4 linked regions of the Homo sapiens genome follow. The protein of the gene in region 1 purifies or fractionates together with the protein of each later gene. This does not show direct contact. Each region holds a gene or a part of one and is shown on either strand. Other genes may lie near its edges.

What was found.
Region 2: the proteins of ZFYVE1 (region 1) and LIMD1 purify together in Homo sapiens (affinity purification with mass spectrometry; 2 studies listed by BioGRID and IntAct, with this or other methods). This does not show direct contact.
Region 3: the proteins of ZFYVE1 (region 1) and LONRF2 purify together in Homo sapiens (affinity purification with mass spectrometry; 2 studies listed by BioGRID and IntAct, with this or other methods). This does not show direct contact.
Region 4: the proteins of ZFYVE1 (region 1) and MID1 purify together in Homo sapiens (affinity purification with mass spectrometry; 2 studies listed by BioGRID and IntAct, with this or other methods). This does not show direct contact.

Annotation. Positions count from the first base shown.
Region 1 is NC_000014.9:73,024,104-73,032,036, reverse strand, and holds the start of ZFYVE1 (zinc finger FYVE domain-containing protein 1), read left to right. Parts: upstream 1-4,930; 5' UTR 4,931-5,111; intron 5,112-7,094; 5' UTR 7,095-7,528; coding exon 7,529-7,933. UniProt on the Homo sapiens protein: Plays a role in the formation of lipid droplets (LDs) which are storage organelles at the center of lipid and energy homeostasis. Regulates the morphology, size and distribution of LDs.
Region 2 is NC_000003.12:45,590,558-45,597,758, forward strand, and holds the start of LIMD1 (LIM domain-containing protein 1), read left to right. Parts: upstream 1-4,193; 5' UTR 4,194-4,322; coding exon 4,323-5,730; intron 5,731-7,201. UniProt on the Homo sapiens protein: Adapter or scaffold protein which participates in the assembly of numerous protein complexes and is involved in several cellular processes such as cell fate determination, cytoskeletal organization, repression of gene transcription, cell-cell adhesion, cell differentiation, proliferation and migration.
Region 3 is NC_000002.12:100,319,482-100,327,412, forward strand, and holds the start of LONRF2 (LON peptidase N-terminal domain and RING finger protein 2), read right to left. Parts: upstream 3,021-7,931; 5' UTR 2,613-3,020; coding exon 1,934-2,612; intron 1,901-1,933; exon of another isoform or gene 1,708-1,900; intron 1-1,707.
Region 4 is NC_000023.11:10,561,567-10,568,586, reverse strand, and holds part of MID1 (E3 ubiquitin-protein ligase Midline-1), read left to right. Parts: intron 1-983; 5' UTR 984-1,039; coding exon 1,040-1,699; intron 1,700-7,020. UniProt on the Homo sapiens protein: Has E3 ubiquitin ligase activity towards IGBP1, promoting its monoubiquitination, which results in deprotection of the catalytic subunit of protein phosphatase PP2A, and its subsequent degradation by polyubiquitination.

The sequences.
Region 1 (7,933 bases):
GATACAGAGTTTCACTCTTGTTGCCCATGCTGGAGTGCAATGGCACAATCTTGGCTCACTGCAACCTCCGCCTCCCAGGTTCAAGCGATTCTCCTACCTCAGCCTCCCAAGTAGCTGAGATTACTGGTGGCTGCCACCACACCTGGCTAATTTTTTGTATTTTTAGTAGAGATGGGGTTTCACCATGTTGGTCAGGCTGGTCTCGAACTCCTGACCTCAGGTGATCCACCTGCCTTGGCCTCCCAAAGTGTTGAGATTACAGGCGTGAGCCACTGCACCTGGCTGCAAGTGAGGTTTTTATTTTTATTTTTATTTTTTTAGATAGGGGTCTATCTTGCCCAGGTTGGTCTTGAACCCCTGGGCTCCAGTGATCCTCCCACATCAGCCTCTCCAGTAGTTGGGGTTATAGGCACCTGCCACCACACCAGACCCAAAGGTTCTATCTATACAAACACCACGTCCCTATGGTCATGTGTTACACATTCCAAATAGATTTACATCCCAGATGTAGTGGCGCATGCCTGTAGTCCCAGCTATTTGCGAGGCTGAGGCAGGAGAATTGCTTGAACCTGGGAGGCAGAGGTTGCAGTGAGCCAAGATCATGCCTCTGCACTCCAGCCTGGGCAACGGAGTGAGACTCTGTCTCAAAAAAAAAAAATATTTACATCCAGAAGGCAGGGTTGTGTTTGCTGTTTTTCCCATCATTTTATTTTCTTTATTTTTAGGAAGACGGAAAAGAGATGTGGGGGAGGGTTCTCACTATATTGCCCATGCTCTTCTGGAACTCCTGGGCTCAAAGGATCCTCAGGTCTCAGTCTCCAGAGTGGCTGGGATTACAGACATGCACCACCACCGTGCCTGGCTAAAGGAAACTTTTTTTTTTTTAGACAGAGTTTCCCTCTGTCACCCAGACTGGAGTGCAATGGTGCGATCTCGGCTTACTGCAACTTCTGCCTCCCAGGCTTAAGTGATTCTTATACCTCACCCTCCCGAGTAGCTGGCATTACAAGCAGGTGCCACCACACCTGGCTAACTTTTGTATTTTTAGTAGAGACTGGATTTTGCCATGTTGGCCATGCTGGTCTTGAACTCCTGACCTCAAGTTATTTGACCACCTTGGCCTCCCAAATTGCTGGGATTACTGGTGTGAGCCACTGTGCCCAGCCAAGGAAACTATTATGGCTCCAAGTTACTATAGGGGTAGTCCTATCTGAAGTCCAATGGCACCATCTCAGCTCACTGCAACCTCTGCCTCCTGGGTTCAAGCAATTTTCCTGCCTCAGCCTCCTGAGTAGCTGGGATTACAGGCGCATGCCAACACACTCGGCTGACTTTTTGTATTTTTAGTAGAGATGGGGTTTCACCATATTGGCCAGGCTGGTTTCAAACTCCTGACGTTGTGATCTGCCCGCCTCGGCCTCCCAAAGTTCTGGGATTACAGGCGTGAGCCACTGTGCCCGGCCCAGAAATTTTTTAATGTTTATTCTTTTTTTTTGAGACGGAGTCTCACTCTGTCACCCAGGCTGTAGGGCAGTGGTGCGATCTTGGCTCACTGCAACCTCTGCCTTCTGGGTTCAAGCAATTCCCTGTCTCAGCCTCCTGAGTAGCTGGGATTACAGGCGCCCGCCACCAGGCCCGGCTAATTTTTGTATTTTTAGTAGAGCCAGGGTTTTGCCATCTTGGCCAGGCTGGTCTTGAACTCTTGACCTCGTGATCCACCTGCCTCGGCCTCCCAAAGTGCTGGGATTACGGGCATGAGCCACTGCGCCCGGCCCTAGAAGTTGTTTTTAGAAAACAATTTCTCAGCCATGTTTCATAATCCAACCATTGGCTCTCTGCCCAATATTGAAAATATAATTTTCAGCAATTTAATCCTCATATATGGGTCATTATTATGTAGATTTGATTTTGCTAGTGGTTTACTTATGTCCCTGGAATCATAAGGTAAAAAGTATTGGACTTCAAGTCAGCAGATACAGTCTTGTCCCAGATTTGTCAATAATTTGTTGTGTAACCCTGGCAAGTCACTTAATCTTAGTTTTCTCTTCTGGGTTAACAATTATCAAGATAGAATCATAGTATGTTGGAATTGGCAGGGACTTCATTAATTACAATTTCTATTTTGTGGAGAGGTTGAGTGACTTACCCAACCACCTGTATAGTCAGGACGTTTTCTTTCTTTCTTTCTTTTTTTTTTTTTTGAGATGGAGTCTCTCACTCTGTCACCCAGGCTGGAGTGCAATGGCACGATCTCGGCTCACTGCAACCTCCAACCCCCGGGTTCAAGTGATTCTCTTGTCTCAGTCCCTCTAGTTGCTGGGATTACAGGTGCACGCCGCCATGCCTGGCTAATTTTTTGTGTGTGTGTGTGTTTTAGTAGAGATGGGTTTTTACCATGTTGCCCAGGCTGGTCTTGAACTCCTGAGCTCAGGCAATCCACCCGCCTCAGCCTCCCAAAGTGTTAGGATTACAGGCGTGAGCCACTGCGCCCAGCCTCTTTTTTTTTTTTTTTTTTTTTTGAGATGGAGTTTTGCTCCATTGCCCAGGCTGGAGTGCAGTGGCACAATCTTGGCTCACTGGAACCTCTGCCTCTGGGGTTCAAGTGATTTTCCTGCCTCAGCCTCCAGAGTAGCTGGGATTACAGGCACATGCCACCATTCCCAGCTAATTTTTTGTATTTTTAGTATAGTCATGGTTTCACCATGTTGGCCAGGACCTCAAGTGCTCTGCGTGCCTTGGCCTCCCAAAGTGTTGAGATTACACACAGGAACAACCACACCAGGCCTTCAGGAGCTTTTCTAGAGCAAGCAGTCAATCTTTGGCAACACAGACTCAGGCTTTCTTTCAATGTTGTTTCAAGAAACAAACAAAAAGTGAAAGCACTAAACAAATATAAGGCCATAAAAAAAGAAAAAAAAGCCTGATAAATGTTAACCATTAGCCTGCACTGTAGCCTGAAAACTTATCTGAAAATTTAGCCCATCTAACGCAAAGAAAATTTCTTTCTTTTTTTTTTTTTCTTGTTTGAGACAGAGTCTTGCACTGTTGCCCAGGCTGGAGTGCAATGGTGCGATCTTGGCTCACTGCAACCTCTGCCTCCCGGGTTCATGTGATTCTCCTGCCTCAGCCTCCCGAGTAGCTGGGATTACAGGTGCACACCACCACACCCAGCTAATGTTTTGTATTTTTAGTAGAGATGAGGTTTCACTATGTTGGCCATGCTGGTCTTGAACTCCTGAGCTCATGATCCGCTCTCCTTGGCCTCCCAAAGTGCTGGGATTACAGGCATGAGCCACCGTGCCTGGCCCTCAAAGATAATTTCAAATTGAGAAGTTCTGAAAGTATAATAGCTTTTTTTTTTTTTTTTTTTTGAGACAGAGTTTCCCTCTTGTTGCCCAGGCTGGAGTGCCATGGCGTGATCTCGGCTTACTGCAACCTCTGCCTCCCAGGTTCAAGCAATTCTCCTGCCTCAGCCTACCGAGTAGCTGGGATTACAGGCATGCATCATCACGCCCGGCTAATTTTGTATCTGTTAGTAGAGATGGAGTTTCTCCATGTTGGTCAGGCTGGTCTCGAACGCCCGACCTCAGGTGATCCGTCCACCTCGACCTCCCAAAGTGCTGGGATTACAGGCATGCGCTACCGCGCCCAGCCTGAGAAGTTCTGAAACTATAGAAGGAAAGATCAGAAAAATAATAGGTAGGAAAAAAAATTCATGGTTGGCTTGGAGAATACCCTTGAAGGGTGTTAAGTAAAAATGATAGGAGGCCTTTGTTTTGGACTAAACTCCTGCACCAGGCCCCAATAGACCTGGCTAAAATAAAAATGGAGTCACCCATGCTAAAGTTTCACCTCACCAAATCCAAACTAAGTTGTTACCAAACCCAAGCTAAGTTGTTATCTGACCTTCAGAGAAATCAGGAAAGAGGGATAAGGACAGCCAGTTTCCCAAACAGGCTTGTTTTAATGTTGCATGATAATGAAGCTCCCTCTGTTGTAATCCTTACACAAAAGAAGTAGCCTGAAGTAACTGATGTCAACTAATCAGTTATTTTTCTATTGTTCTGTCTCTCTGTCCTCACCTTCCAAGGAAAGTAGCTTAGAAGTGACCAATATGTCAAGGTCCCATGAGAAGACTGAAAAAAAGAGAAGAAAGAGGAAAGAAAAGAATGACAAGAAAGAGAAAGAAAGAAACCAATATGCTCTTTGTTCTTTGCTTTTGCTTCCTCAAGCTTTTCTCTGTCTACAAAGCCAACCTCTCCTGCTCAGCTCATCAGAACATTCACTCCACTTTCTGGAATGAAGTGTTGCCTGATCCTAGAGTCGCAATAAAGCCAACTGAGATCTTAAAACTAAATTCGTTGTAATTTTGTCCTTTGCCAAGGGGGGAAAAACAACAAAAACTTCCCAAGAGTACCTATATCCTCTTATCACTTTTTCTGGTCTTTTCCTTAGTTTTTGCGAAGTGAAATTGGGAAGGTGGAGACTGTCTGTGCTCACACGTTTCTGAGGGAATGGTGTGCAAGAGGTTACTTGAATCCAAATTAATTGACTCACCATTTCCCACTTATACTAGACATTATTACATCAGTTCTCTAATGTAGCACCATGCCTTCCCCAGTTACAACCCAAAAGAACGTGCTGAAACCTGCGGACACCACACTCAATGCAAAAACTCCAAGTCCCGAAATCCTCCGTAGCCTGTCCCCACCGCCTCCTCGCAAGAGCAGCCTCTTCAGTACTGGGAGTTGTAGTCATTCAGAGTCTTCCTTTCCGGGATGAGGGGCGAGAGCGCGCCTCGAGGAGCTACATCTCCCAGGAGGCAGTGCGCACTACGCCCTTGCTGGCGCCGGGATCCTCCCTCTCTCGCTCCTCCCTTTCTGGGCTGCACCGCTCACGCCTTCCTGTTAGTCCGAGCTGGGAGAAGTTCACTCCGATCAGCTGATCCCAACTGACAACAGGAGAGGAGGAAGCCCGGGAGGCAACGAAGGAGGAGGGTGGCGGAGATGGAGATGAGGATGGATCTGCCGGTGTCCTGAGGAATAGCCTCTGCCCCCACTGGCGCCCTGCGGCCCCCCGACGCCGCCTTGCTGCGGCCGAGCTTCTCAGTGGTGGGATCCCCGGGCCGCGGCGGGCAGGGCAGGGCGGGGAGGGCACGGCCCAGCGCGGGGCGAGTGATCGTCCTGGGGCTCAGGCTGCCCTCGGGAGGAAGGGGGGGCGGGTGCGGCGGGGGTGGGGGTGGGGTGGTATAAACAATGGATTCGGCTCCGGGTTTTGCCGGCGTGGGGGGGATTTTGGGGGACCTTCTTTGTTCTTAGGCTCCGCTCCTGCCCCTCGGGTTGTGGCGGTGGTGTCCGGGTGGAAGGAAGGGTGAGGAACCCCCGGCTGGGGAGAGGTGTCGAGGTGGGGGCCCGAGTGGGCAAAATGTTTGGTTGACATGGCCGGGCGTGAGGTGTACTTTTGAAGGTTGATTTTATATTTTTCTCAATTGTGACAAGTTTGATTTTTGTTTCTGTTTTGGGAGCTGGCTGGGCATGTCTGAGGTTAGATTGTAGTAAATAAGATCCCCTAGTCACTCCCTTCGCCTTCCTTGTTTATCTGAAAATAAGGTTGATAGATTGATTACTGTAGGGGAGGAGTGACTATCAGAAAGGCAGGGCTTTACACCTTGTCGGGGCCTTGGAATGCGGGTCAAGGCTAGGGGGAATTAGGAATATAATTGTCAAAGTGACAAAAGCCCCTTTCTTGCCCCAGTTATCTTTTTTCGTATTTTGAAGTTATTTTTAAGTTAGTTTTTAAGTGACAAAGAGAAAAATTATTTGTTTTGATTCACTGCAGGCCTGGCTTTGCCATGGGTCAAAGTAGAGGAATTGTCTCCTGTTGCTCCTTTTTTTTTTTTTTTTCAGTTAGTGAAAGAAGGGACAGAAGAATTACAGTGTAAAAAAATTGTTTTTAAAGATGAAATTGTTACTATTGTTTCTAAGTTTTGAGTCTTTAATATACATCTAGCTAGAGTTGAAACAATCCAGTTACAAGGCTAACCAGGTCGGCCCAGGTATTTGATAGATCTAAAGTTTATTATTACATTTTCATTAGCTTTGTGAAGGCCTCTCCACTCCTCCCAATTGTGGGATGCATGTGGGGGTGCAGAGGGCTGTCCTTCCAAGGACTACTCACTTAGTGATTTAGATTCTGAATTTAATATCTGAATGAACAGAAAATTCCAGTCTGGGAAATAGAGCAGCAAAGTCTCTTAAATGCCTTGGGCCTAGAGGTGGCGTTTGTTGTCAAGAGGAGGAGCTTTAGCCACAATTTTGAGATTTTTTTTTTTTTTTTTTTTTTTGAGGGAGTCTTGCCCTGTCTTCCAGGCTGGAGTGCAGTGGCAAGATCTTGGCTCACTGCAACCTCCGCCTCCTGGGTTCAAGTGATTCTCCTGCCTCAGCCTCCCTAGTAGCTTGGATTACACGTGCCTGCCACCATGCCCAGCTAATATTTGTATTTTTAGTAGAGATGGGATTTCACCATGTTGGACAGGGTAGTCTCGAACTCCTGACCTCAAGTGATCTGCCCACCTCGGCCTCCCAAAGTGATGGAATTACAGGTGTGAGCCACTGCGCCTGGCTATACAACAAGCCAGTGTAAGTGTTAAGATAGAAAATGAGATTTCTGGCCAGGTGCGGTGACTCACGCCTGTAATCCCAGCACTTTGGGAGGCCAAGGCGGGCAGATCACCTGGGGTCAAGAGTTCAAGACCAGCCTGGCCAACATGGTGAAACCCCGTCTCTACTAAAAATACAAAAATTAGCTGGGCATTGTGGCTAGCGCGTGTAATCCCAGCTCCTTGGGAGGCTGAGGCAGGAGAATCGCTTGAACCCGGGAGGCGGAGGTTGCAGTGAGCCGAGACTGTCCCATTGCACTCCAGCTTGGGCAGCAAGAGCAAAACTCTGTCTCAAAAAAAAAAAAAAGAAAAAAAAGAGGAATGAGATTTCTCTCAGCAGTTCTGGGCTAATATTTAATTTAGTCAAAAAAAATTTTTTTAAAGGTGCACTTCTGTTTTTTAGATGAGTGAAATCCTTTTCCTTCCTCTATTCTAGGTATCCCCTGAAATACTGACTTCAGGTCGAATTATATTGAAAAGCTCCTGACCACTTTCTTTCATTACCAAAACTTTGTAGCTGATGTCCAACCGATGAACCCACCACCGTGAACCCATCAGACCTCTCTCAGATAGCCATAAAAGACCCTTCCAAGTCAATTTTGACCACATCTTTGCTTGCACTTTATGGAGGATGAAACCATCAAACCAAATCAACGTTGCTGCTAATACAAGAGTCTTAGAGGCAGCAAATTAAAAATTTGAACATTTGTTTGTGAAGAACTATAACAGGACATGAAAGGTGTTCTTTTTTAAAGTGTTCAGAACCCTGTGGAAGTTTCGTGCAGTCTTCAGACTCAAATCTTCGTCTTCACCCCCGGGGCAAGCTCAGTGACTATTATATGGTGGGTGTGTTTCCTTACCAGCGTGAGTATGAGTGCCCAGACTTCCCCAGCAGAGAAGGGCCTGAATCCGGGGCTGATGTGCCAGGAAAGTTACGCTTGCAGCGGGACTGATGAAGCTATCTTTGAGTGTGATGAGTGCTGCAGTCTGCAGTGTCTCCGCTGCGAGGAGGAGCTCCATCGGCAGGAGCGCCTGAGAAACCATGAGCGGATAAGACTCAAACCTGGCCATGTCCCTTACTGTGACCTCTGCAAGGGTCTCAGTGGGCATTTACCAGGTGTTAGGCAGAGGGCAATAGTGAGGTGCCAGACCTGCAAAATTAACTTGTGCCTGGAGTGCCAGAAGAGGACTCATTCTGGGGGTAACAAAAGGAGACACCCTGTTACTGTGTACAATGTCAGTAATCTCCAGGAGTCACTGGAGGCAGAAGAGATG
Region 2 (7,201 bases), on another chromosome or scaffold:
GGGTATCATAACCCTGGATTGGGGTGCTCCTAGGTCTGGGCTCCCCAAAGGGCTGCAGCTTTTCTCTCCTTCTCTCTTTTCTCCTTCTCTCTTCTCTCCTTCTCGTTGCCCACAACGTGGCAAGCAAGGGGTGTGTTTCAGTCCTGTTTGTGTTACAGATCTTTTAGTGCCACCATTTGCCCAGTGGGTCCCAAGTTCTTGTCCTGTGTCCACAAAGAATGAAGTATGCAGACAACTGGAGGGTGAGCAAGGCAGAAAGGAGCCTCACTGAGTGGCAGAACTGTTCTCAGTGGGTATCTCCTTTCCTCAGGCAGGTTGTCCCGATGAGTGTCCAGCTCTCAGTGGAGAAGAGACCCACAGTGGGTAGCTGCCTTCCACAGGCAGGTTGCCCCGATGTCTCTGCAGCCTTCAGCAGAGAGACCCAGAGTGGGTAGCTCCTATCTGCAGGCAGGTCATCCCATTGTCTGCCTGAGTCTGGCTGAGTCTGGTTTTTTTTATGGACTTCAGAAGGGAGGAAGTGTGTGCTGATTGGTCCACCGGCAGCCATAGGCAGGCCCAGGAAAAGCACCATAAATTCTCACTCCAGTCTGCAGGACTGATAGCTCAGCCCCTAGGTTTCAGGCTGTCCCTGTCTTGAAGGGGGCTTCACTGGGGACCCATCCCATTTCACCCAGGAGCCTGATTGCCCCCTGCTGCCATCAACCTGCTGGCCATGGCACCCATGGCACCCAGGCTGTTCATGCTGAGGGGTGCCTGCAGGTACATGCCGAACTGCCCTCAGCCTCACCCTGGCCTCCCTCCCATGCTCATCGGCACCCAAAGTCTGGAGGGGGCCGAGGCGGCAGGGGACTGGTGTGTCAGTGCTGCCCTGAGTGCGTGCACCCCCAGCTGGGTCGTGACAGTATCTGGGCTCAGCTTCAACTTTGCTCCAAAATCAGAATGGGCACCAGGAGAGGCCAGGCAACAGGAGCAGGCACTTCTGAGCCTGTGGGAGTAGGGGGGCTTTCTAGGTCCCCGGGAGCACAGGGATGCCCAGGTCTGCAGCCACAGCTGGGTGGATGCAGCTGTGCCTGGGAAGGCAGGGCTCCCGCCCCACCAACTCAGAAGGGAGTGGGGCTCCTGCCTGTTCCTAGCTCCTACCAGCTCTATGGAGCATGCAGTCACGGCCTCACCTCGCCATTGCAGCTAGCATCATGGCAGTGGCTGCTCCAGATGGACCACTGCTGCCATCACCAAGATAGGATGAAAAGAGAAGACAAATGTAAGAGCACTGGTTGGTGTCTGTGGCTCCTGCACCAGGGTCCCAGCTGTCCAAACTGAAAACCCAGGAAGCTGGCTCTGAGCTTACTGGACTTTGCAGAGGGATGGCCATATATTCCTAGCACTTTGTCAGCTACAACTGCCATATTTGGAGGTCAGGCAAAGTGAGCCAGTCTTCCACTCCAAAATCCAGTTTTTAATTAATAAGTATTACCCAACACCTAAGGAGTGTTTAATTATGATTACCTCTGAGAAAGGGGATGGTAGGCAACTTTTAAAACTTTATATATGTCTGTATTGTTCAAAGTTGTTATAGAAACATGTATTACTTGTAGATAAAAAACCAAAAAAAATTTTTTAATAAAAATACTTCATTTTAGTATAGTGCTTTATAGCAGTGCTTCTGTAACTTTATTGTGCAAATAAACCGCCCAGAAATCTTGTTAAAATGCAGATTCTGATTCAGTAGGTTGGCAATGGGGCCTAAGATTCTGCATTTTCAACAAGCTCCCTGGTGATATGGAGTCCATTAACCATACTTTGGGTTTACGGCAGCGGTCCTCAATCTTTTTGGCACCAGTTTCACAGAAGCCAATTTTTTCACAGACGGGATGAAACTGTTCCACCTCAGATCATCGGGCATTAGATTCTCATAAGGAGCGTGCAACCTACATTCCTCATGAGGGTAGTTCATAATAAGGTTTGTGCACCCCTCTGAGAATCTAATGCCACTGCTGATCTGACAGGATGTGAAGCTCAGGCGGTAATGCCAGTAATGGGGAGTGGCTGTAAATACAGATGAAGTTTCGCTGGCTTGCCTCCTCTCACCTCCTGCTGTGCCACTCAGTTCCTAACAGGCCACAGACCAGTACTGGTCAGTAGCCCAGGGGTTGGGGACCCCTGGTTTACAGAATATAAAGCACATTCATATATATTATCTTATTTGTTCTCTGTCACAACTCTGGCAGATAGGGGTTCACTAATTCACTTATTCGACCATTAGGTACTACTATTAATATATACCAGGCACTTGGCATACAGATATGGTCAAATGGAGTGGGAAACCTACCACCCAACCAAACAAAAAAAAACGCATGTTAACCAACAAATAAATAATTATAAATAGTTATCAGAACTGAGCAGGAAGTAAAGAGGGTGCTGAAAAAGAACAACAGGAACCACTCTGAGGAGGCCTCTAAGAGGAGGTGACTTCAGCAGGGATGGGAAAGATGAGCCACTCAGTTTAGGGGCAAGCTCTGGGCAGACACCAGGAAGCTCCTGCAGCTAGAGTGCAGGGAGGGAGGGAAGATCCCTAGATCTGGCCCAGAAGGCTGCGGCAAGGGGCCGATTTCAATTTAATTCTGGGGTAAGCACTGAGGATTTAGGTAGAGAAGTGTCTGTTCTAGTATTTGCCTTAGGATCACGATGGCTGTAGTGTGGGAAATGAAACCTCTCCAGGATCGCCTGGGAACTGGTATAGGGAGTCCCGGGCCATGCGGGGGCGCCAAGGAGTCAGGCCTGGTGTCCCTGCAGCCGCGCGGATCCACTTGCAGATGGGTCCCTCTACGAATAACGAGCCTACTAGGGCACGTGCTTTTACTGCTGCACTGAGGACGTGAAATGCGCGCAGGCACAACGAGACTTTCTTCTTTTTCGCTCTTTCAGAGGGCCCGGGCTCCCATCTACGCTTTGCTGGTTACGTTGGCATGTTGGGCATTTCCCCCTCTCTGCCTCAGTCTCCCGACCTGTCAAAGAGGACGGTGGGCCAGCCATGGGTGACACGCCCGTGCGCCTCTCCAATAGTGCACCTCGGGCAAGCCGGGCGGCGGGCACAGCCTGGACGGTGCCGGCCTCGAGAGGCACAAAGGGCTGGCTTTCCACCGGGGAAACTGAGGCAGTGGAGCGAGGAGCGGCGTCCTCGAAAGTCCTCGCAAACTCCCAGCGCCTGTGTTGGGCCCATGCAGGCTACCCAGGCCGCCCGTCTCCGAGCGGAGGACCCCGCCCAGCGCTGCCAGGGGCGGGGCCGGGCTGAGGACCCGAGGCTGGAAGGGAGGTCGGAGCACCCAATTCGGTCCAGGACTCGCAGGGGGCGGCAGTGGCGGCGGCGAAGTCCCGTGCAGTCCCAGTGCTAGAGCGTGGGACGGACTTGTGGGGCACCCCTCGGTGTTCTCCAGCCAGGCCTGGGGGCAGGAGGCCCAGCCACGCTGCCGGGTGCAGGCCTGCCCCTGGGCGCCCGCCCGCGCGCCGTCCCCGCCCCTCGGCCGCCCCCTCCGCCCCGGCGCGGGCTCGGGACGTGCAGAGCCGGCGAGCGAGCAGCAGGGACTGCGCCTGGCGCACTCACTTCCGCGTCCCGCCGCCCTCCGGCCCGCGCGCGCCGATCCGCCGCCGCCATCGGACAATGGGCCGCCAGCCCCAGCTGCCGTGAACTTCCTGCCGCTGCTCGGCCGCCCGTGCGTCCCGGACGGCGTTCCTGCCAGGCGCCGGCCGGGATCGCAGCTCCGGGGAAGCAGCGGAGGACCCAGCGCCTGGAACGTACCTGCGCCTCAGCCGCCGCGCGTTTGCTCCGGCCCGACTCGCGGCCTCGGCGCCCTCCCGGCCGATTCAGCTTCACCCGGCCCAGTCGGCTGCTGCCTTGCTGTGAGTTTCCGTGTTTGGTTGCCTAAGGAGGATGTGATTTTACTTTTTTGCTGTTTTCTTTTTCCTTTTATAATTTGAAGAGGAGAAAAGAACTCCGCTGAGCAGGCCCGGGACGGCGAAGTGCCACCAGCTACCCCAACAAGGACGTCTCCAGGGGAAAGGGAGTTGGAAGCAAACTTGGTCCAGCTGGCGTTGAGGTCTCAACTTCGGCTGGACTCTTAAATCCTGGGGTCATGCCCTTCACGCTAGGCAGGTGGAAGTCTTTACTTGTACTGGGCCGGACTTGAGCCCCGACCCTTCGCCAGCATCTCCCCGCTGCCCTCAACACACACACACACACACACACACACACACACACACACACACACACACACACACACACACACACACGGCACCTGGGCTAGGCCCGGACACCTGTCTGCAGCATGGATAAGTATGACGACCTGGGCCTGGAGGCCAGTAAATTCATCGAGGACCTGAACATGTATGAGGCCTCTAAGGATGGGCTCTTCCGAGTGGACAAGGGTGCAGGCAACAACCCCGAGTTTGAGGAAACTCGCAGGGTGTTCGCCACCAAGATGGCCAAAATCCACCTCCAGCAGCAGCAGCAGCAGCTCCTGCAGGAGGAGACTCTGCCCAGGGGGAGTAGAGGCCCTGTCAATGGAGGGGGCCGCCTGGGCCCACAGGCCCGTTGGGAAGTTGTGGGCAGCAAGCTGACTGTGGATGGTGCTGCCAAGCCTCCTCTTGCTGCCTCGACAGGGGCACCTGGGGCAGTCACCACCCTCGCTGCTGGGCAGCCCCCGTACCCACCGCAGGAGCAGAGATCCAGGCCATACCTGCATGGCACGAGGCATGGCAGCCAGGACTGTGGTTCCAGGGAGAGCCTGGCGACTTCTGAGATGTCTGCTTTCCACCAGCCAGGCCCCTGTGAGGATCCTTCCTGCCTCACTCATGGAGACTATTATGACAACCTCTCCTTGGCAAGCCCAAAGTGGGGTGACAAACCAGGAGTGTCCCCCAGCATCGGCCTGAGTGTAGGGAGTGGGTGGCCTAGCTCCCCGGGGAGTGACCCACCACTGCCCAAACCCTGCGGGGACCATCCCCTAAATCACCGACAGCTCTCCCTGAGCTCCAGCAGGTCTTCTGAGGGTAGCCTCGGTGGTCAGAATAGTGGCATTGGTGGCCGCAGCAGCGAGAAGCCAACAGGCCTTTGGTCCACTGCCTCCTCCCAGCGGGTGAGCCCTGGCCTGCCTTCCCCAAACTTGGAGAACGGAGCACCAGCTGTGGGGCCTGTTCAGCCCAGGACCCCTTCTGTGTCAGCACCCTTGGCCCTGAGCTGCCCCAGGCAAGGAGGTCTTCCAAGATCAAACTCGGGGCTGGGGGGTGAGGTTTCAGGTGTGATGTCCAAACCCAATGTGGACCCCCAACCCTGGTTCCAGGATGGGCCCAAATCTTACCTTTCCAGTTCTGCCCCGTCATCCTCGCCAGCTGGTCTGGACGGTTCACAGCAGGGTGCGGTCCCTGGGCTGGGGCCGAAGCCTGGCTGCACAGACCTTGGCACTGGTCCCAAGCTCAGCCCCACCAGTCTTGTCCATCCAGTGATGTCCACCCTGCCTGAGTTATCTTGTAAAGAGGGTCCCCTGGGCTGGTCTTCTGATGGTAGCCTGGGATCTGTGCTCCTGGACAGCCCCAGCTCCCCTAGGGTAAGGCTGCCCTGCCAGCCCCTCGTCCCAGGTCCTGAGCTGAGACCCTCTGCTGCTGAGTTGAAATTAGAAGCCCTCACCCAACGTCTGGAGCGAGAGATGGATGCTCACCCGAAGGCTGATTACTTTGGTGAGTGAGAGGCTGGTGGAGTTGCCTATGGTGGGGCGATGGGGTTCTTGAGATTGGGGAACATGCCCCCTACCAGGGATGCTGTGGGCTGTAGTTACCTCTCTTTGAGTGGCCTGTTTTTTTATTTTTTTGTTTTGGGCTTCCTCTTTCAGCTGCTTTTTCTGATTCAGAAACTTGAAAGCATCCTGGGGCAGAAAGCGGACCTTGCAGCTGGGGTTACCCATGTGTGAAGGGTGCAGCAGGGTGGGATTGCTCATGACTGCTCTCAGAAAAGAGAAATGCTGTGACTTTGGATTTCAAGGGTTTTGGGTGTGACTTTAGAGCCTCTTGCAGTGACAGGCTCATATAGGACTTCAGTGGGACCAGCTTTCTCAGGGGCAGCTACCCCTGAGCGTTCAGTCTGTAGTTGGTTGGGCAGATCTGGTTGATCTGGCTGTTTGAGGGACCAGTGATTGAGGCAGGGGCTCTTGACTGCCGTGTGTGTGTGTCTGTGTGTGTGTCTGTGTGTAGATGGGTACTTATGTGCAGTTGAGGCAGGTCAAACACTACCATGAAAGACTTGTAGAGCAGTGGATCTTTTTTTTTTTTTTTTGAGATGGAGTCTCGTTCTGTAGCCCAGGCTAGAGTGCAGTGGCACAATCTCGGCTCACTGCAACCTCCGCCTCCCGGGTTCAAGCAATTCTCCTGCCTCAGCCTCTTGAGTAGCTGGGACTACAGGCACGTGCCACCACACCTGGCTAATTTTTTTTTTTTAAGTAGAGACAGGGTTTCACTGCGCTAGCCAGGATGTTCTCAATCTCCTGACCTCGTGATCCGCCCGCCTTGGCCTCCCAAAGTGCTGGGATTACAGGCGTGAGCCACCGCGCCTGGCCAGAGCAGTGGTTCTTAAGTGTAGTCCCTGGATCAGCAGCATCCCTTTGCCTGGAAACTGATTAGAAATGGAAATTCTTGGGCCCCACCCAAGACCTACTGAATCAGAAACTGTGGGATGGGACCCAGCCAGCCGTGATCCTGCTGTGTGGTGAGATTTGAGCCCTGCCGCACCATGTGCCTCCTAACCCAGCCTACACCCAGGTAACAGCCAACAGCCAGGTTGCACCACAGCCGTGGCACAAACTATGATGGAAAATGTGTCTTCCTGGTTTTACTCAAACTTGCATGTTTTGTTTTATTCTCTTTTTTAAAACCACAAACTCTTGGAGACTGCTAGCTTCAACTTTTTTTCTTTGCACGAGGTTTAGTGGTAGTTGTATCTTTCTGTTGAGTAATGATTAGTTGTCTCATAAGAGAGCTAACTAGAAAGACAGCCTATTCGCAGAGAATCGGAGGGGTTTTTCTTTTTCAGTTTTTAACTTTGGATAATTGACCCCCGTGTTCCCCATAGCCTGAGTCCTGCTGGGGTAGCAGCTCTGCCTAGTGGAGGGCAGGGACAGGGAAGGCCCTGGGAGAGGAAGACAGCTGGCTTACTGCT
Region 3 (7,931 bases), on another chromosome or scaffold:
CTCTCATACTTCCTCACAATCACTATTCCCTTTTCATCCCCCCAAGGTAACCATTGTCCTTACTTCTAACATCCTACAGTAATTTTGTCTGTTTGGGCTTACAGATAAATAGGATCATATAGTAAAAATGCTTGAGTCTGGCTTCTTCCACTTAACATTATGTTTGTGAGATTTGTCCACATTGTAGTTTGTAACTGTAGTTGATTTATTTTCTTTCTGTATAGTATGCTATGAAAACATAATCATATATTCACCCCTTCTGCTCTTACTGGACATTTGGGTTGTGTGCACTTTTGGGGTATCTCTAACAATGACATACACTCTTGTATCTAATTGCACATTCTTTTGGGGGCACATATGCATATACCTCTTTGAAACTATTTGGCCAAGGACAGGCTTAACATCTGTAGATACTACCAAATATTTTTCAGGGGCATAATTTGCAGTCCCATTAGCAGCATATAAATATCACAGTTTTCATTTTTCTACATCTTCTCCAACATCTAAATACAGATGAAGTATTTCTGATGAAAATTTGATGTTGGAATTGGGTAGTGCAGTAAATGCAAAATATATAACGAATTTCAAAGGCTTAGTTTAAAAAAGTAAAATCTCAATTATTTTTTAAAATTGAAGGCATGTTGAAATAATATTTTGGATGTATAGGGTTAAAAATTGCTAAAATAAATTTCACCTGCTTTTTTCACCCTTTTAATGTAGCTACAAGAAAATCCCAAATTATGTGTGGCTTACACAATAGTTCTAATTGGATAGTGCTGCTCTAACACCATCAATACCTAAATTAGTAGAAAACTAAAAAATATGCCTGTTAAAGTATGGATATGTTGGTTGCAAAAACTACAGAATACTCGTTAGAAAAGCTGAGTTAAGTGCTCTATTCCAGCAGAGAATATCCCAATTTAGATACAGATATTGAACACTTGTTCAATATTTGGATCTTTTTTTTTGCAAGACAAAATTGAATGCTAGTCACTTTATAATTTGTGCCTTCTAAAAGGGAAAACCTTAATCCTAAGTTTAAAATAAAATGTGCACTGACTACAGCATGGTAGTAGATTATTTTAGTAACAAGAGATTCAACAAGTCTTCTCGGCTAGTGCTTTAAATCGTATATGCCCTATTATAAAACCGGTGAAACCAGAAAGCAAACCGTCCTCCTCACACTGCCCAAAACAACTGCCAATAGAGCGCATACTCATATGTCAAAGCCAAAACGATGACAGAAGTTTGGTCTTCCTTTCAGCTAAATAGTGTTAACAGGTGGTGGCTGGGTGAAGGCAGGAGAGTGCCTGTTGCTGGCCTTAGGCCTCAGATAAATAAGGAAATGACTGAATGAACAATTTAAAACTACACACACTAGTCAGTGTAACTATCTAGTAAGTTAAATACGCCATGACATCTAATGATGGCCTCTGAGACAGAGAGCAGGCTAGAGCCGGAGCGTTTGACGTGATTACAGCAGAGTGGAGGCGGTTCCTTCCTGGCTATATTAGCTGAAACCCAAAGCAAATCTTGCCCCAGCACAAGGCACCCCTTTCTGCGCCTGTAGTGTGTCAGCTATGTGCATTTTCCTTCAGGATGAGCAAAAATATTTCGTCATCCTCCCCGCTCCTCAACAGCGCAGAAGATGCCGAAAAGCAATTACAGGACCTTACAGAGCTGCTCCGGGGGCCGCGGGAAACTTACCAGCATCCTGGAAAAGACAAAACCAGTGGGGTGCACTTGGCCTCTCCTGGCTGCAGGGTGTGGCCGCCCCCACCTTTCACCTTCCCATCCTTAGGAAGCAAAGTGACCCCTAAGCCTAGACAAAGCTCTCGAAAGCCCAAAGCCTCGGGCCCACCGGCCAGCTCCCCACCCCGCTGCTGGGCCGGACAGGTGTAGGGGAGGCGGACCCGCCCCGCAGCCGACTCACCCAGCTCCAGGGCCTGGTCGCACCTGAGCAGCGCGGCCTCCGGCTGCTGCTGGCGCTGCAGGCTCCGCGCCTGGCCTGCCAGCCTGCGCAGCCGGCACTCGGCCGGGAAGCACTTCTCCAGCAGGCCGCTCAGCACCACGTTCACGCGCCGCACCTGCGGCCGCGCGGGCCCTGGCTCCACGCAGCGCTTGCAGACTGTGAGCCCGCAGGGCAGCGTCACCGGCTTATGCAGCAGCCGCCGGCAGCGCGGGCAGCCGAGCAGGTCGCGGGGCGCGCGGGGCTCCGGGGCCGGCCCTCCCTCGCCGGGCGCCTCGGGCTCGCCGCCCGGGTTCTCCGCGGACAGCGGCCGGTCGCGCAGGCCCACGGCGCGCACCAGGCCGCCCGCCAGCTCTTCCAGCTCCTCCGGCCGCAGCGCCCCGAGCCGCGCGGCGCCGCGGAACGCGCCCAGGGCTTCGGGGAGGCGGCCGGCGCGGGCCAGCGCGTCCCCCAGCCTCAGGCACAGGCCGCGGTCCGGCTGCGCCAGCCCGGCTAGCATGGAGCGAAAGAGCTCGGCTGCCATCTCGTAGTCGCCCGCGCGGAAGGCCTCGTCGCCCTCCTCTAAGCGCTGGGCGATCGGCTCCGCGCGGTCGCAGCCAGGACACTGGGGCGGCGGCGGCGGCGGGACCGGCTCGGGGCTCATCACCGCGGGGCTGCGACGACGCGGGTCCGGAGCGAAGGCGCGGAGCAGGGAGGATGCGCTGCTGCTGGGAACTGGCCGGCGGGAGCGCGGTCTCAGCCCTCGCCAGCAGCCACGCGCGTCTGGGGGCGGCGCGCTGCGAGCGGCTGAGACCGCGGGCGGGGGCGGGCGCCTGGCTTGGGCAGCGTCCTCAGCGCGGTGTGGGCGGCGAGCCCCGCAGGGCTGCAATCGTTCCGGGGTGGGGGCCGGGACAGGCACCGCGGGCGCAATCTGAGCCCCTGCCCACGCGCAGCGGCCTCTCAGTCCCGCCGGCTTAGGTAACCCAGGTCGCTGCGGTAACGCAGTGACCGCGCTCCAGGTCCGCGTCTCTTGCGATGCTTCCCCCACTCGCCTGAGGGCTCCTGCGCGACTGCGCGCGCGTCCTCTGCCTGCCGCCTCCCCGCAGAGGTGCCGGGGCCCTGGGAGCAGGTGGCCTTGGCCGCGGGCTGCTGGCGCGCCGGCACCGCGGCACCTGCTCTTCCCCAGAGGCCTGGCCGCCCCCACAACCTGTGGCTCCGCTTAAGCAAGAACCCAGGAAAAGTCACCAAACGCATCACGCATCTCTAGCTTCGACTTAGGAAATTGTCCTAAATGACTGGGGAGGCTGAAGTGGGCACCCAGAGGCCCCGCCTCAGCGAGCTTCTTCTCTTAACTCTAGGCTGAGGCCTTTGAGAACTCATTTTAACAGAGAACGTGGAGGGCCAAGAGAACCAGATACCAGGAGGAGGAGGGATTCGAGAAGTGGACAATTGTATTGTGCCCTTGATTAGGAAGCAGAAATAGAATTAGAAATAGAATTCTAATTAATAGAATTAGAATAGAAATAGAAAGGGTGCCCTAGTATGGAGTACTGCAGACATAAGTTGCTGGGGAGAGGGAGCTAAACGCTCCGTTGGTGTACAAGCAAGGTTTAAATTAAAATCCTCTGTGCGTATTAACCGGGTTCATAATTTCTCCTATATAGCCTATGTATTTCTCCTATGTAGCCTGCTCCCTTCTTCCTGTCGTCACAGTATCTGTTTTATCCTGTGTATTTGAATACAATAAAATGCATTACAATATTCTAGAATTCATACTACTGTTCATATTTCAAGAATAAATTTTTTTAAAAAATTGGAGAGGTTTTTCTACATCTAAAACTGCTGGCTAAAGAAAATATACAATACCTCGACCACATCTGGCTTTGGGAAAGGAGAAATGCCTCATTAAGTGAGAGAACATTTTAGACCAGTTCCTAAAAGGGAAAAAGGGGCAATTTTTGGCCAGCCCTCTAGTTCTACAATAAACAAATGCAGAGTACCCACCTCCTTTTCCATGAAGGATTTCCCCCAGCTGTCTACCTAACTTAATTGATAACAGTGTACTGTTTGGGTCTCTTTTTCATTACTGAATTATTTCAAATTCACTTTTTCAATCACTGTTTGGATTTTTATCTGCTTTCTTTATAGAATAACAATTCACTTATATTTGAGGGTCATTTATCCATCAAATTCACAACCAACAATCAGGAAGCAATGGGGAAAAAGCTTCAGAGCACAGACCATACAGTAAAGATTGTGAAACCTTATGATCTCAGATCCTATTTGTTCTTATTTTAGACAAATATCTAGCAAGAGAACAGAAAGAAGCTTGCCGGAGGTATGCCTGCTGAGAGCCAGAAGTGTTTAAAGCAAAAATGTTAGTGTGTTGTGAGGTTTATAACACATAGAAATAAAATATATCACAAATATAACACAAAGGCAGGTAGAGGAGAAATGGCAGGATACTGTTGTAAGGTTCTAATGCTATATGTGAAATGGTATAATGTCACTTTAAGAAAGACTGTAATGAGTTAAGGATGTGTCCTCTAACCCTAAAGCAACCTCCTAAATAACACAAAGAGCTATAGTTTAAAAGCCTATAGAGATGAAATGAAATTGTTAAAAAAAACTCTATTAATCCAAAAGAAGGCATAAAAAGAGAGGAAGGAAACAATTAGATAAAACAAATAGAGAACAAATAGCAAGATGGCAGGTTTAAACCCAATTATATCGGTTAATGTTCATTAAATATTGTCTAAATACCATAATTAAAAGGCAAAGATTGTCAAAAGGAAGACCCAGATATATGCTGCCTACCAAAAAAGAACTTTTAAATATGAAAATACAAATAAGGTAAAGGTAAAAGGATGGAAAAAGATGTTCTAGTTAACTCTAAGCAAAATAAATCTAGAGTGACTATATTGATAGCTGACAAAGTCTATTACATAGCCAAGAACATTGCTAGGAGAAAGGACAGCCATTTCATAATGATAAAGGTGTTAGTTGGTCAAGAGGACATAATAGTCCTAACCGCGTGTGTTCCCAATAACAGAGCTTTCAAATATTTGAAGCAAAAACTGATAGAACTGTAAGGTGAAATAGGTAAATTAATAATTATAGTTGGATATTTAAATATCCCTTTTTCACCATAAAAAGAACAAGATCATGTCCTTTGTAAGGACATGGATGGAGCTGGAAGCCGTTATCCTCAGCAAACCAACACAGGAACAGAAAACCAGATGCTGCATATTCTCACTTATGAGTGGGAACTGAACAATGAGAACACATGGACACAGGGAGGGGAACAACACACACTGGGGCCTGTCGGCGGTGGGACCGAGGAAGGGAGAGCATGAAGAAAAATAAGTAATTCATGTGGGGCTTAAAACCTAGGTGATGGTTTGATAGGTGCAGTAAACCACCATGGCACACGTTTACCTATGTAACAAACCTTCACATCCTGCACGTGTACCCCAGAACTTAAAAATAAAACACCCCTCTTTCAACAATTAATACAAGTATACTGAAAATCAGTGAGGCTATAGAAGACTTGAGCAATTCTACAAACCAACTCAATCTGATTGATGTTTATAGAACACTCCACCCAACAATAGCAGAATACACATTCTTTCCAAGTGCACATGGGACATTTACCGATATAGAACATCTTAGAGCCATAAAACAAATCCCAATTTAAAAGTATTCCTTCTAGGGCACTGATACATCAATAAATTGGATCAAATTGAGGACTTCTGCTGTTTTAAAGACACTGCTAAGACATGCTACACACTAGGAGAAAATATTTGCCGATCACATAGCTGATAAAGTACGAACCAAAAATATATAAAGAAATCCAAGAACTCAATAAGAAAATACAGAACTGGATTAAAAAGTGAGTGGAAGATTTGAACAGTCATTTCATTACAGAAGACATATTGATGGCAAATAAGATGCTCAGCATTATGAGCCACTGGGGAAATGCAAATGAAACCCCAAGCAGTTAGTACTGCACACCTAGTGGAATGTCTGTGATTAAAAAGGCTGACCATGCTGAGTGCTGGCAAATACAGGGCATATGCAGAACTCTCACACATTGTCAGTGGGAGTGTACCATGGTGCAGCCACTTTGGACTACAGTTTCTTAAAATGTTAACTGTATACTTATCATATTAACCACCCATTCCACTTCTAGGTATTTATCCAAAAGAAATAAAAGCATATGTCCATTCAAACACTTCTACATGAACCTTCATAGCAGCTTTATTTGTAACAGCCCCAAGCTAGAAATAATTCAAATGTCTTTCAACGGGTGAATGAACAAATTATGATTTCTCTACACAATTGAAAACTACTCAGAAATAAAAAGGAATGAACTATTAATGTATCAAATAACATGTATGAAATTCAAAATAATTATGCTGAGTGAAATAATACAGCAAGATAGAGTACGTATGTATAAATTATTCTATTTATACAAAAATCTTAGGCTGGGTGCGGTGGCACATGCCTGTAATCCCAGCACTTTGAGAGACCAAAGCGGGCAGATTGCTTGAGCCCAGGAGTTCGAGACCAACCTGGGCAACATGGTGAAACCCCTTCTCTACTAAAATTACAAAAAATTAGCCAGGCATGACAGCACATGCCTATAGTCTCAGCTACTCAGGAGGCTGAGGTAGGAGGATCGCCTGAACCCAGGAGGTCAAGGCTGCAGTGAGCTATGATTGCACCACTGCAGCCTGGGCGACAGGAGTGAGACCCTGCCTCAAAAAAAAAAAAAAAAAATCTTGAAAGTATGAGTGAATCTACACTAATAGAATCTACACTACACATGAGTGGTCATGTGGGGATGGGAAGAGGGATTACAAAGATCCATGAGGAAACTTTTAGGGATGATGCATACATTTGTTACCTTGATTGTGGCGATGTTCTCATGGGTGTATTTGTGTGTCAGAACTTATCACAATGTATACTTTTTTATTACAAAAACCATTTTTTATAGAGATGGGGTTTCACTGTGTTGCCCAGGCTGGTCTCGAATTCCTGAGCTCAAGCGATCCATCTGCCTTAGCCTCCCAAAGTGCTGGGATTACACACATGAACCACTGCACCTGGCCTATATACTTTAAATATATGCATCTTATTGTATTGCAATTATACCTCATTGGGGCTGCTTTTAAATATGTGTCGATTTAAAGAGAGGTACTCAAAAATTAAAATTTTAAAAAATATATAGGATGCTTCTAAAGCTATATTTCACAGAAAACTATAGCCTTAAATGCTTGTGTTAAAAAATAATAAAAACTAAAAAGCAATGTGTTAAACATCTAATTCAAAAAGTTGGGGATTAAAAACCAACAGAATAAACCCCAAAAGTAGTAAGAAGACAAAGAGAAGAAACTAGTGAATAGTTCTTATCTTGGTAAAAAGAAGATACAGATATCAACTCAAAAGGTGAGAAAAAGGAGCAAACGGGCAACAAAATGAAACACTGTAAGAGGACAGAAATAAGTTAAAATGTATCAAAAATGTTAATAAATGTAAGAAGACTAAATTTACCAATTAATCACTGAATATATCAGATTGTAAAATAATCCAGTCCAACTATATGTTATTTTAAAGAGGTACACCTAAATTATGAAAACAGATGTAAGTTAACAATAAAAAGATGAAAAAAGATATATCAGGTAAATGCTAACAAAAATAAAGCTAGGATGGCTGTATTAATAGCAGATAAAATAGATTTTAAGGCAAAAAGCACCTAATGATACAAGGTTCAACTCACCGTGAATATACTAAATTCTAAGCGGCTATGAAATTAATAAGATTCTCAAAATGTATAAAGAAAAGAAATTGATGCAACTACTTGGGTAGACAAGAAGTGGTGAGTGAAAGTGAAATTTTACTCTTTTTAAAAGGATTTTTTTTTATAAAGCCCCTTTTTTTTATTTTTTATTTTTTGTTTTTTGAGACGGAGTCTTGCTCT
Region 4 (7,020 bases), on another chromosome or scaffold:
TGTTGCTGGCAACAGTGACAAGCCCGTGGTGGGAGTTTTTTGGCCAAAAGGGTCCCTCAGCAGTTTTGTAAGCCTCCTTAAATTGCTTTCTCAACTGTAATCATTATCATTGTCATAACATAACTTATCACATGAATATGATGACCACTGAAATCCTTGTTCTAATTAACTAAATCATTGCTCTAAATATTAGTCATTGGTACTCAAACTTACTGCAGCCACTGAAAAAGCCCCCAGATATTTTTCTCCACTTCGTTCTGCCTACCCACGTCCCACTGCTGGATTAAACAATAGAATTATTCAGAAACATAATGAACACATGCCAAAAATATTGCCTCTATCACAATCATCTTTGTGAAAGTCAATGTTTTTTCTCAGGAATATATTTTGGAAAATGACATCCCACACTTAAACACGATCATCTCTGCTGAAATCCCCACATTTGATTTCATGTACATTTCATGCCCATTTCTATAGTTACTGCCTTCCTATTGTTCTGAAACCTGGTTTGGTATTGCAGAGTAAAAGTCCTTAAATCTCGTATACATTAATACGTAAGTTTATAAATTCAAATTTATAAAAGACTCTAGTTTATTGATGAATATTTCTACATTTTAATTTTCTGTGCGAGGTTAAACCTGACTCTGACACAATAAGATTATTCTGATTAAATACAAATTATGGAAATTACAGTTTCAATTACATTCTAGTTTTGAATGAAGCCTTTTAAAAAACAAAATTGAAAAAAAAAATTGCACATTTTCAGTTACTGAACTTTGAGAAAATGTTAACTGGTATATGATGGCTCAGGATGCTTTTTCCTCCTTTTTTCCCCAGTGAATAGAAAGAGAATTATTTGGAATGTACACACACTTACCCTTTCATGACCTGTGTTTGGAATTATTCTGAGATGCATTCAAAGCTGACACCCCCCTATGGTTGACCTCCCTGTGCCTAATCAAATCTTACATTCTTGTTTCCAGATAGCTGATCAGCTTCCTTGGGTTTTGCTGATGACACAAGAGAGCTTTGCCTGAAGATGGAAACACTGGAGTCAGAACTGACCTGCCCTATTTGTCTGGAGCTCTTTGAGGACCCTCTTCTACTGCCCTGCGCACACAGCCTCTGCTTCAACTGCGCCCACCGCATCCTAGTATCACACTGTGCCACCAACGAGTCTGTGGAGTCCATCACCGCCTTCCAGTGCCCCACCTGCCGGCATGTCATCACCCTCAGCCAGCGAGGTCTAGACGGGCTCAAGCGCAACGTCACCCTACAGAACATCATCGACAGGTTCCAGAAAGCATCAGTGAGCGGGCCCAACTCTCCCAGCGAGACCCGTCGGGAGCGGGCCTTTGACGCCAACACCATGACCTCCGCCGAGAAGGTCCTCTGCCAGTTTTGTGACCAGGATCCTGCCCAGGACGCTGTGAAGACCTGTGTCACTTGTGAAGTATCCTACTGTGACGAGTGCCTGAAAGCCACTCACCCGAATAAGAAGCCCTTTACAGGCCATCGTCTGATTGAGCCAATTCCGGACTCTCACATCCGGGGGCTGATGTGCTTGGAGCATGAGGATGAGAAGGTGAATATGTACTGTGTGACCGATGACCAGTTAATCTGTGCCTTGTGTAAACTGGTTGGGCGGCACCGCGATCATCAGGTGGCAGCTTTGAGTGAGCGCTATGACAAATTGAAGGTTAGTCCGATCCGCCTTAAGCCAACCCCTTTCTGCCAGAAAATGTCATGGAAATAAAAAGTGTATTCACTGCTAGCTACATGGCAGGTGAAGGTTTTCTCCTCACCTTTGTTATCTGATTAGTTTTAGCATGTTTTTGGCAACCTATAAATGTTACACAATAAGGGTATCTTGTAAAAGTTGACTGCTGCTTGTAATTTTAGCGTTGTCAAGGTGAGGGCAAATTCTAAAAATCTGGATCATTTTCAATCCATGCAGTTTTTCTGGATCATTTTCAATCCTTACAGTTCTTCCAAAGAGAGTGCTGCCTCTCTCTGAGAGAGAGGGAGAGAGAGAGAGAGAGAGAGAGAGAGAGGGAGAGAGAGGGAGAGAGAGGGAGAGAGAGAGAGAATGACAGATAAAATCTGGCTTTGGGCATTTGGGGAACACTTACTTTTCTCACTCATCTGGGAAAACTAATTCACTCTCATTGTACCTGTATCTAGTTACTGCACAAACAAAAGAATAGAGGGAAGAATGTCTGTAGCAAATGTGGGATTTTAGAGGACACGTGACCTTTTATTCCTTGTATAAACGATATCCAGCTTATTGGTGAAATTCAGTGCTCTGACAATCTCAGGTTTCACGAAAGAATTCCTTTTCGTGTAGGCTCTTTATTCAGTAAGGTTACAGTCAAGACTATTTGAACTTCATTTTTTACATGAAATTATTAACCTAACTCCAGCTTGGGGGATAATGATTAATATGACTATATGTGAAATAAAAGGATCACTTTCTAGGCAGGGCGTGGTGGCTCATGCCTGTAATCCCAGCACTTTGGGAGGCCGAGGAGAGTGAATCACTTGAGGTCAGCAGTTCAAAACCATCCTGGCCAACATGGTGGAACCCCATCTCTACTAAAAATAAAAAAATTAGCCGGGTGTGGTGGTGGGTGCCTGTAATCCCAGCTACTCGGGAGGCTGAGGCAGGAGAATCACTTGACCCTGGGGGGTGGATGTTGCAGTGACCCAAGATCGCGCCACTGCGCTCCAGCCTGGGTGAAAGAGCGAGACTCTCTCTCAAAAAAAAAAAAAAAAAAAATCACTCTCTAAGTATGGATAGAAAGCACTAGGGAAGAAATAATAAGCCAAGTCTCCACATGTTTGTTCAATTTCAGGCAACAGTGGGTCTAATTATTGAAAACTCAGCTGAGAGAGTTTGAGTGAGATACTATGTTCATCAGCTAATTTTAGATCACAAGACACCAATTAAAAGAAAGGAAGTATAAATTAAAAGCTCTAAGTAAATATATATTGAAGTCCTTCCTCTCAGGAAAAACACATACCATGTTGTTGAGCAAACAAAATGAATCACATGATCAAAAGAGTGTTATCACTTAGAAAACAGTGTCACCTTTAACAAATGGTTTCTATCACCTCTCCTTAGCGCTAATGGGTGGTTGTGTTTACTGGGACCACATAGTTTATTCTGTGACAGTGGGATTAACGGACCACATCTGGGATTTGGCTTTGCTATTTCTTGACATGTTGAGGGAAGCCGACATGCTGAAGTCAATTCCTGCTTCTCAATGTCACTTGGGCAACAAAAGCATCACCTGGGCAGCATGTTTCACTTCAAGTATCCAAAGAATTACTGGTGCAAATCCATCTTTAAACCATGTAGAGGAAGTCAAGCACAAGGACTCAGGTGACACAGACAACAGAAGACAGCCGCTGACAGGCTTTCCAGAACAGTGCATGGCAGCACAGGAGAAAAGTACCACCAAAGTTAATCATAGCAAAGGCAATGCATGTATGAGCTGTGCCTCTAGAGCAAATTCTGAAGAAATTGCGAAGGCTATTAATTTTTACAAACCAAGGTAATCTTTTTTTTTTTTTTTTTTTTTACCCCTTTTTTGGTTGGTGGTGGAGCTGAAGGGAGAATATTTAGGATAACTGAACAGAGATGTTTGATTTTTGTTTTCCAAAATGTAAACATGCCAGATCTTTGTTTCTTTATTAAAAATGTTCCTTTGATTGGATTTGCACTACCTTTTAATGATTGTTTGTTAAAACACCACAATCATAATGATGTTCAATATTTAACAACTCCCAGGCTTGATATTTATTTAAATCTTGTGGTCAGGTTCTGCTCAAGTACTCATGGCCTGTCACAGCAGAGTTATTAAATATTTACATAACATCTCCAAATTTATGAAGAATTCCTGTCATGCTCTAGCCCTCTTTGTGATAAAAACAAAACTCTTCAGTTACGAGCCCTGCACACTTTAATTGAGCCAGTGGCCTATCGGTTGTTCTACTGTCACATGGAGGGCCTGACAATTAATGATGTGGTTTCTTTTTATTTCCTAGTTACAGAAATATAAGCATATAAACAGCATCCAATGCACCGAAACACATTTACAGCCGTTCAATAAGATGTACTTATGAGCATTTGAACAAATAACTTATCGACATAGCATGTTTGTTTTAAAACATGCCACTTACGTTAGAATTTTAAAAATAATAATTATGACATTTGGATGTCTGATATTTCAGTTATCGCATACTTATGAACATATGTACATCCTTGTTTTATTTAAAACCTAAGCACAATATAAATGTTGATTTTTTTGAAGGAAGTAATAGCATACCAAGAGGACCAAAACCAAGGAAGTATATTTCTGTTAATTACTACTTTGGTCTGAAATGTGCTCTGAACATGCATTTTTCTGTAGCTCTAGGATCTCATATAGATGTGGATTTGTGATGATGTGAGAACACAGATAAAGCATGGAGGAATTTGAGGATGCTTTCATTGATAAGACAATAGATTTGCTTTATTAATTTGCATATGTAAGGACCCTGGTGTCTTTGGAAACATTTTTGTCCTTCTGTTAGTAAAAGTTTATTACCTGAAGAAGGGAATTCTGCAATTATTATGAAGAATAATTTCTTGCAATAATACTAAACTTTGGGGGACATATTTTACTCATTAGATCTCAGTATAAGAGATGTTTGTTTATACAAAAAATCAGAATATCATTTTGTACATTACAATCTTTTTCTAAGTGTAAAAGAAAAAGAGATAAAAATTCTAACATGTTGAACTCGTACAAATAAAATCATCCACATCATGTAAAATAGCATCATGTCAGTAATCTAACGCTTTCGGAGACTATGCATTGAGAGGCACTCATGAAATATTGAAGCAAAGAGAAAATTAAGGTAGCATTTCCTGAACTCTACTAAGATAAAAAGAGAAAAGTTTTCCTGCCAAGTGCAAAGGTCTCTAAGTGGAGCGTATCCATAATGTGGATATTTCTTTACATCGTTTTAATTGAATTTTAAGAAGCCTCTCAGTCCTTCAAACTTGGAGGAAAAATTTGATTTGTGAACCACATAACATATAAGAGAATTTAATATAATTAATGCATTCCAGAGTTTTCAAGGAATTAAAATGCAGTAGTCCTCTTTTTCTGTTCCAACATACAAGGTTGGAGCTCTTGTTTCTTTTCTCTAATTATACCTATAAAAATATACAAATTGAAAAAAACTGACCTTTCCTTGCCTTTCAGTTTCAGCATAGCCCCTTCAAATTAGCTGAAGCTGAAGTTCCAAACTATTGTTTTGCTATTCTTATTCTAAAGGCTGGCTGAGGAAGTTTGTTTGTATAATGCATGTTTCAACGGATCATCCCATTGTAATTTTTTAATAGTTTGATTTAAAAGTTCAAATTAAAGCTCAGCATTTCTATGTAGCACTTTTTATCTGGAAGTGAAGACATGAGATTTCATTCTTGGGTTTAATTTATAGATTGTAAGGTTCTATGTTTGAAAAATCTTTCCCAGTTTGCAACTAGGAAAGTTGTAAGTGTATACTGAGCTAGACTTCTTTTTATTATAATTTCTATAACTTGTTTCTTCTTTGAAAACCAGTAGCAGGCATAGTGCAGGTTCTAGTGCTATGGTGTGTGATGCACACACATACTTGCATATACATATACATACATGCATTTATTTATTTATTTAATATTATAATCTTCCTGAATCTAAGTTGGAGACAAATTCAAGTGACCAGTATTTTCATTAGGGATATTTCATTCTGCAGGCAAGAGATGACAACAAACATAGCAATAATAACTATATTCCCATCACTCAAAATATTTTACCTGTTCCTTGAATGTTTGGTAGATGGATACAAGTCAACTTTGGACTTGGTATATTTTTTGTGGGAAGAGTCTTATCTTGAAGGGGTTTTTTTTTGAAGTTACAAATATGTGTATTTTTTAAAATGTGTCTTTCTGTTTATTGGTTTCTAGTTTAAATCCCTTAAGATCAGGGCTCAAGACAATTGCATATGGTCTCACTTATGGATGCAGTATGCTTTAAGAAATATTAGAATAAGTTTATTGTATCTTCAAAATTTCCATGAGCTCATTAATGTTTTCAGTCTGTGTAATCAATTAATGACTAGGAGAGGTGCACTTAGGCCTTCCACTCAGAGAGTGAAATTTTCTTTTTTTTTTTTTTTTTTTTACTTTAAGTTCTGGGACACATGTGCAGATTTATTACATAAGTATACATGTGCCATGATGGTTTGCTGCACCTATCAACCCATCATCTAGGTTTTACACCCCACATGCATTAGGTATTTGTCCTAATGCTCTCCCCCGCTCGCCCCACAACCCTGACAGGCCCCAGTGTGTGATGTTCCCCTCCCTGTGTCCATGTGTTCTCATTGTTCAACTTCCACTTATGAGAGAGATCATGCGGTGTTTGGTTTTCTGTTTCTGTGTTACTTTGCTGAGAATGATGGGTTCCAGCTTCGTCCGTGTCCTTGCAAAGGACATGAATTCATTCTTTTTCAGGCCTGCATAGTATTACATGGTGTATATGTGCCACATTTTCTTTATCCAGTCTATCATTGGTGGGCATTTGGGTTGGTTCCAAGTCTTTGCTATTGTAAATAGTACTGCAATAAACATATGTGTGCATGTGTCTTTATAGCAGAATGCTCTATAATCCTTTGGGTATCTACCCGGTAATGGGATTGCTGGATCAAATGGTATTTCTGGTTCTAGATTTTTGAGGAATTGCCACACTGTCTTCCACAATGGTTGAACTAATTTACAACCACCAACAGTGTAAAAACATTCCTATTTCTCCACAGCCTCGCCAGCATCTGTTGTTTCCTGACTTTTTAATAATCGCCATTCTAACTGGCTTGAGATGGTATCTCATTGTGGTTTTGATTTGCATTTTCCTAATGACCAGTGATGATGAGCTTTTTTTCTTCATATGTTTGTTGGCTGCATAAATGTCTTCTTTTGAGAAGTGTCTG